2 separate regions of the Homo sapiens genome follow, and region 2 is reported to be linked to region 1. The links are microRNA targets in miRTarBase. Many come from high-throughput screens and were not tested one by one. Region 1 holds a microRNA gene; the other region holds the end of a gene's coding sequence.
The links. The annotated mature microRNA hsa-miR-125b-5p reads UCCCUGAGACCCUAACUUGUGA and lies in region 1 at 1,733-1,754, shown strand. An mRNA with a match to its seed (bases 2 to 7 or 8) in the 3' UTR can be bound and repressed. Matches are read on the target gene's strand: a 7mer-m8 pairs with bases 2 to 8, a 7mer-A1 pairs with bases 2 to 7 and ends in A, and an 8mer does both.

Region 2: miRTarBase lists GPRIN1 as a target of hsa-miR-125b-5p. The part of its 3' UTR that is shown has no 7-base or 8-base seed match.

Annotation. Positions count from the first base shown.
Region 1 is chr11:122,097,030-122,101,562 of GRCh38, reverse strand. It overlaps MIR125B1 (microRNA 125b-1), which reads left to right and starts at 1,719; the gene lies at 1,719-1,806. The region is part of intron 4 of MIR100HG (mir-100-let-7a-2-mir-125b-1 cluster host gene); the gene reads left to right.
Region 2 is chr5:176,594,056-176,597,055 of GRCh38, forward strand. It overlaps GPRIN1 (G protein regulated inducer of neurite outgrowth 1), which reads right to left. Exons shown (of 2, transcript NM_052899.3): 2 at 1,747-3,000. The coding sequence ends at 2,753. CDHR2 (cadherin related family member 2) reads left to right here. Exons shown (of 32, transcript NM_017675.6): 32 at 1,477-1,769. The coding sequence ends at 1,617. Among named protein-coding and RNA genes, the nearest start is that of GPRIN1, 15 kb to the right of the region's middle. RefSeq lists a silencer at 2,820-2,979.

The sequences.
Region 1 (4,533 bases):
GCTAGGTGTGATGATGACAGACTAGCTTTTCTGAGAGGAAAAGGAAAAGGGAAGGGAGAGAAAAAGGAGAGCCTCTGAGCTCAACGGAGGATTGTGCCTGAGAAGAACCCACAGAGGTGAGAAAAAAGTTGTCTTGAAGGTGGGGGTGGGGGGGCTGCTAAACAGACACTGTACAGAGGGAGAAGAGACATAATTTAGCTGTGTTGCTAGTATGATTCCATTTTTAAAGGAGGGGAGGGGGAGAGTCTAGAGCTCTAACTGTTTTTAGTTGCATATGGAAATATCTAAAAAAATATTTAGCATTTTTACTAAGTGCGTTGAGGCCTCTCCAGTGTCCTCCTGGCTGTGGCTGCTTTGTCATTCTCTTTGACTAGCCAGCCATCTACCTTGCTCAGGCCTGGAATAAAAGAAGAACAAGAAGAAGAAAGAAATGAAATGAAAAACAGAAAGAAAAAGGAGAAGAAACATTTGTAAAAGGGTCATCTTCCCATCTGCCTCCCCTCCTTTTCCTTTCATTTTTGGTGGCGGCACAGGAAAGCCCCACTTCCAGTCTGATGAGGAAAGCGACAATCTATCAGGTACAGAACCAGGGGCTGTCTGCGAAGATGGAGGGGAATTATGCTTCGGATTCCTCTGAAATATTGGCCAAAGGCTTCAAAGAATCCGCAGCGGGAGGTGCGGGGGGAATGTCTCTCCCCAGCCCGCACCCAGCCCTTCCCACTTCGTGTCTACCAAATGACAGCCTGGTGCTCGCTCTTGGTGATTTGGCCTTGACTTCAGCCAAGCAGCTGATGCAGACGAAGCCTCCGTTTGCAGGACTGGCAAAGTGCACGCTAAAGAAAGAAGGAAGAAATTTTTCAAAAAGCAGCTCTGGGGAGGTTTCATACTCCCCCCCCCCCCCCGCCTTTTTTTAATTTTTAAGTGAATATTTTCCAAATTTGATCAGTTCCAGCCCCTCCCTCCACTCCCACCCAACTGCCCTTTTTTCTCTCGTCAAAGCATAAGCTACAGAGTTACAGTCTCGAGATTTGGTGTATCGCTTCCTGCCCCCGCCTCCCCTCCCCGCCCCCGTTCTCCGTCCTCTATTGAAACACCTCGCCCAGCCTAGCGCACTGAGAGCTCTCATTTTCCCCCCTTGCTCGGGATGGTGCCACAGGAGGCTGTGCGGGCCCCGCTCCGCTTCGAATGGGTGAGTTCAGAACGCTATTCGTCTTTACACTTCTATAGCCTCCGAATCCTACTTCTTGGTCTTCTCCTTTGAAAACCCGATTTCTATGATTTTTGCATGCGGCATACTTGCCCTGGGGGAAAGAGATGCCTCCTATTTTCTCTTCAGTCATTTGTGCTAGTCGTAAATTAAAGCTTTGAAAAGACACTAAATCCTTATTGTAGACTATGGTTTTAAAAACTTGGGCATTTCTGAGTCTGTGCATATTATTTTCCGTTTTAGTGAACTATTTTGCCCAAATCTTGAAAGAGTTTTCTCTGATGTACTCGTGATCGTATGTGTATGTGCGTGATTGTATATGCGCCCCCAGATACTGCGTATGTGTGTATATATGTATTAGGCTTAAACGGAATCTCAATTTTGTGAAGGAAAGGAGCTTAGAGAAGAAATACCATACCACCTGTTTGTTGCATCTTAGTTATGAACCTCGAACAGAAATTGCCTGTCATTCTTGTTTTGCTTTGCTTTGTCTCAAGAAAGAAAACATTGTTGCGCTCCTCTCAGTCCCTGAGACCCTAACTTGTGATGTTTACCGTTTAAATCCACGGGTTAGGCTCTTGGGAGCTGCGAGTCGTGCTTTTGCATCCTGGAAATTTGGTGGAATTTTATTCTTTAAAGCAAAAACAAAAGAAAAGAAAGTTTGTCTGAGGTGATTGAGTATACCTCTGAGGTTTTCATTGTTAGATGGGATCAGGTGACCAGAGAGTGGCAGCTCCTGGATTTCTGTTAAAGTAGGTATATATTTTGCTTTAATAGCGTGTTGGCTGCTATGTGTATGTATGCATGTTATTGATGCCTGAGGCTTGTGGAACTCATCTGCCTGGTCTATTCCTTGAGAGCAACACGCAGTAGTATACGAGCGTAACAAGAACAGCTCAGTACCTGGTGCTTGACCTCAGAACATCTCAGCTGAAGTCCCAGCATGCCCCATGTCTCCAACTTTCAAACTCCACAGTTAATCTTAAAATTGTGCCCAATTAAAATGGGCATGTGAATATATTATATATTCAGTGTCCACACATGTGTATCATGGATGGCTAGACAGTGAACATACAGACGCAGATAAAGGCAAACTAATAGTTTGGAGTAAAATATTAATAGGTTAAAATTCTATTCTTGCAATTCCACACAAAGGATGGAAGTTATGGTATTAATAAAAATTAAGTTTGTATGACTTTGCAAGATTTTTTAAAAATAAAAGGAGGGATACCACCTCCTTGCTTGGTATCTTTTACAAAATGTTATACTTTATGGATATAAAGGTGATAAAGATTGGAAATAAATCTTCTAAATATGTAAAATGAAAGCAACAGCAACAGCAAACACAATTATCGTATTCTTTGGGAGTAACAAATACTGGTTTTCATTTTAAAACTAAGGAAAATTTTATCAGTACTTAAATTCAATCCAAAAAAGGTTTTATAACACCCAAACTGTACATTTAAAATTATCCTTTCTTAAGGTAATGGCTAGCATTACCTAGTTTGTAGTTTTCTTGAGCTGTAACTTTTTATAACTGAATCATTTCAGTGATTTAGGGCTGTCTCGTAGTTGGGGAAGAGAAACAGTAACTTACCTTTCCTTTGTTGTGAAAAATTCTAGTATAAAATATCATTTAAACAATTTTCGTATTATTGGGCCAACATTTCTCTTCTATGTTTGAAAAACACCTAAATCAACCCCAATCCAAATGCTTTCTTCTTCTAAAGACTTTATATTGGTTGTAGCCTTGTTTTATACATGTAATTGAAGGTTAGGGAAACTGTTCTTTGCCTGTTATTGTTTTTTATTTTAAGTGTTTATTGCAATTTTAGTCATTAATGCCAAATTGCAATCAAGAAACCATTTTGTATCAGAAAATTGAACTGAGAATATGAACTATGCAACGATTGCACCACGTCTTTTGTTGAAACCTCTTGTGTAGTAATATTAGAATATTACTTTCCAGTCTTTGATAGTCCGAATGTGCTTCAAAAAAAATAGTTATTTGATTGTCGAGTCATCGTTAGTTTATATTCAATGGTTTAATGACTTCCCCTACCTTAGCTGATGTGTATGCATAGGTATTTGGAAATTATAGCAAGGCATCTATTTAACTTACGAATCTATATTACCACATTATTCATATCCAACATTTGTAAAACAGTTGGTGCTTTTTGAAGTTAAAATATATCTGCAGTTTACTCTATGAAAATGTATACATGGATCAATAAAAACATGCCAGGTAAAATTCTTCCGTGATTTTCAGTGATAACAGGGTAGTAATTTAATACAAGTGTTTTAATTTGTATTTCAAGGCACTCTCAGGTTTTTACATGTTTTCAAGTGGATTGCTCATGTTCCGAGGTTGCTATCATACAACTGATCACCCAGGCATTTAAAAGTGCATAACGACACAAGATTTTATATTTCAGCAGGCAACTGCTTCAGTCAAGGGCAGGTTTCTCAACACCCCTTCTTCCTCACCGAGCCCATCAGTGAAGTTCAGTGAAATGAATAACATAATTGGTGGTTGGTTCAATCACTACCAGTCTAGACTAGCCCAGACGCATCAATTAGAGGGGGCTGTCTTTTAAAGGGAGAGTGCAACCGAAACAAGCAGGGCATTATTGATACTGATCTTTAAAAGTGCAAATCCAGCTTGGCAGATTAAAAAAAAAAAAATAAGGCGGGGAACTGGGGCGGGGGTGCGTTGCGGGAAGAAAAGAGAAAGAAGTGAACTGGAGCTTTCGGACACAGAAGGACAGGAAGCTTGAGAGAAAAGGAGAGGATAATGAGTGAAATGCAATGCAGCACCTCCTTGGAACACACAGTTACAATTCAGTTCACAGGGCACACTGGCTCACCGTATTTTTAACTAGTTTCTCTCCCCACCTCCTTTTTAAAAATTCCTTTTTTGCCTCTGTTTCCAAAGAAATGCCAGCTCAAAACCAAGGCAGTTGGAATTTAACAGCTCTAGGAAGCTCTAGTGAGAATAAAAGCCAAATAATATGAACCAGCCAAAATTCCTTTTGCAACATTTTTCCCCAAAAGAAAAATACAGAAGATATTTCTTTTCAAGTCTCTAATTCTACCTTTAAAAAATATGTGTACTAATGAACAGTATTCATTTTAAATCTAGAACCTGGGAATATATTACTATAGGCAAGACACCTTTAGGTAAAGAGCTCATAATTTTCCATTGAATACAGTAAAATTATAAAGAATGTAACAAAGGCTTTGGTAATTTGGTAGAGGGGCTTTTTGATGAAAAAAAGACAGATGATTTAGAAAGCGAGGAACACATCAAGCCTCAGGGAAAGAAA
Region 2 (3,000 bases), not on the chromosome of region 1:
AACCCAAGGGAGTGGAGTTAAGGACCCCCTGAGGTGTGGCTGGATCTGTGGACTGGGAAGGGGCAGGGAAGTAGGAGAAGGGTCTGGAGAGGGTGTGGGGACAAGTCACGGAAAGTCTTCAAAGCCAGAAAATTGCTCAGATTATGTCCTGGGAGGGCAGGGGGTTGCTATATTTCTGAGAAGCTGCCCAAGGCTCCACCCTGTCTCCTGCAGCAGTGAGTCTTGCGGGTCTCTGGGCAGGTCCACGAGGCATGGGGCCTTTTTGGGAGCTGTCTGCCCCCTGCTCTCCCATGGCTGGGGTGGCGCAGGTGGATCCTTTTCCCAGGAATCTCTTGGTGCCCTGACTTGTCTAAGCTCCACACGTCTGTGTGGTAGGTGTGAGTGGCTGGAGAGATTATCACTCTAACCTCCCCAAGTAACCAGCAAGGAAATTCACATCCAGAGAGGGGTGCTGACTTGCTCAAAGTGGGACAGCTTGCAGGGCAGGGGCAGACCAGAACCCAGGTCTTTGGTCTCTGGCACCAGGTCATGTTATCGTGGGTGGCACTGAGCCTGCAGCTCTCCACTTGGGGTCTGTCTTGAGGGCTCTGAGGAACACAGGCAGAATGCTTAGCCCCTCTGGGGCCCCTCGGATGTTCCACTGTTTACTAGGGACCAGAACAGCCCCAGTCTGGAAAAAGCCCTTGGAGTGCCCTGGGGAGGGCGGTGGTGGCCGGGGCTCTGGCCCTGTGGGTGTCTCTGTAGCAGAGCAGCTGAGCTTGGGGGCCTGGCTGTTCCACAGGAGGGTGTGTGTGTGTGTGCACGCACACAGCATGTCGCATGGCGAGGTGGAAGAGGAAGGGCGGGAGAGATGAGTGAGTGTGTGCCATGATAAACTGCAGGTGGGACCAGCCTGTGGGCAGCGTCCCTCTGAGGGCAGCAAAAAGAGACGTCAAATTCAACCAGGGCAGTGTCACATCATGGACACGCTTTTGAACCAGCAAGACCAGTGGTCTGCCCCTCTTCACCAGTAGACCTCTCTAAGCCTCAGTTTCCACATCTGTGAAGAGAGGACATGTTCCCTCCCTCAGAGGGTTTCAGTGGGTAGTTGAGGTAATGGATGGACCTCAACCCACACGGTGCCTGCCGTGGGGTACAGGGGGCAGGAACTGCGCTGGGCTGGCTCCTCGGCACAGGACACAGGGCCTGGCATTATTTGGAACTGGGCTGAACGGCAGAGTGCCGCAGTGTTGGTGGGCAGGGCAAAGGCAAGAGTGAATCCCCCAGGCCACACCCTCCCCCTCCCCTAATCTGCATCACCATTAGCCAGGGCCACCTCTGGGACACAGCCTGGACCAGAGGCCCCAGGAGGGGCAGGGTGGGACCCCTGCCAAGGAACCACTGGTCGTGAGCTTGAAGCCCATCCACTCCCCTAGGGCCTGGGGCACTCGCCCCACCTTGCCTTGCCCTTCACACCTCCTCTCCCTCTCCCTGCAGGAGCACAGGCCACCACACACACCACCAGAGCCAGATCCAGAGCCCCTGAGCGTGGTCCTGTTAGGACGGCAGGCAGGCGCAAGTGGACAGCTGGAGGGGCCATCCTACACCAACGCTGGCCTGGACACCACGGACCTGTGACAGGGGCCCCCACTCTTCTGGACCCCTTGAAGAGGCCCTACCACACCCTAACTGCACCTGTCTCCCTGGAGATGAAAATATATGACGCTGCCCTGCCTCCTGCTTTTGGCCAATCACGGCAGACAGGGGTTGGGGAAATATTTTATTACCAATGTATACTGTGACAGTTTGTAGCCAAAAACTGCGGCTGGAGGGGTGGGGACGGGACACTGAGTGGTCACAAGGGACTTGGGCTCACAGCACAGGGGGGACAAGGGGCTGGAGAGGGTGGCCTTTAAAAGACAACTGTGGTTATAGAATGAGCTCTCTGTCCTGTCCCCAATACCCAAGAACACCGGTCACCCAGGATGCCAGGGCCCAAGAGCTTCTGTGAGCCCAGCTGTGACCTCCAGACCTTCCTGAGACCCTCTGGCCTTTCTGTGACTCTCTCTCAGCTGAGCCCCCAGGGTACTTCCTGTAGCTGTCTTTGGCCTCTCTGGGAATCTCAAACCTGTGACTCAGTGGGAGAGGGGATGGGGCTGGAACCAGGCGGGTGGGAGATAGGAACTGGGGAAGGACCACCAACAGCATGCAAGAGACGCCCCGGCCACGGGGCCAGCCACTGCGTGGAGACGCTCACACTCGTTCTACCTCACGTGCTGCCCGAGACCTCACATTCAGAGACGTGCCCACTCGCGGGTCTCACACACCGATCCTCACCCACTTGAAGCTTCTGCCACTCAGACTTGTATGCAGTCTCTCCCTGTTCTGGGGATCTGGCCCCACCGGAGACCACAACGCACCAGTCTAGACATCTCAGGAGCCTGCCCCAGCTCTCAGGGGGTGGGAGGTGAGGGTGCTGAGCAGGCCCCCGTGGTCGCCCAGTGTGACCGGGAGTAGAGCTGAGGGCTGTGAGGGGACAGTGGGGCGTCAGGGCTGGCCGGGTTCGTGGCCTCGTGGCCACGAGGGAGCTTGGTAGAAGGGGTTCTTCTGTATTTGTGATGGGAGGGGCTGGAAAGACGGGGACGCAACAGCCCTAGAGGCTGCACAACCCCTCGGAGGCCTGTGGCACGCAGAGGGGACCCCTTCTAGGGGCCTGTGATCAAGAAGGGAGCCTGAGAAGGTCGGAAACTCGGGCGTACAAAATGGGGGCAGATCACTCGGCCGTGGGTCCCGCCCGCGAGCAGCACCGCGGCCGGCGCACACTCTGCAGCAGCGCGCGGAACAGGCCGGGCGGACGCTTGGCGGCGCCATCTGGGGGCGCGGTGCGCACCGAGCCCGAACGGCCGGGGCCGGCACGGGCGGCGGGCGGCGGCGCGGGCGCCCCTTGGCGGCCGTGCTCCTCGATCTGTCGCTCCAGATGCTTCTGGATGGCCATGCCCAGCACCTCCACCTCCATGGCGG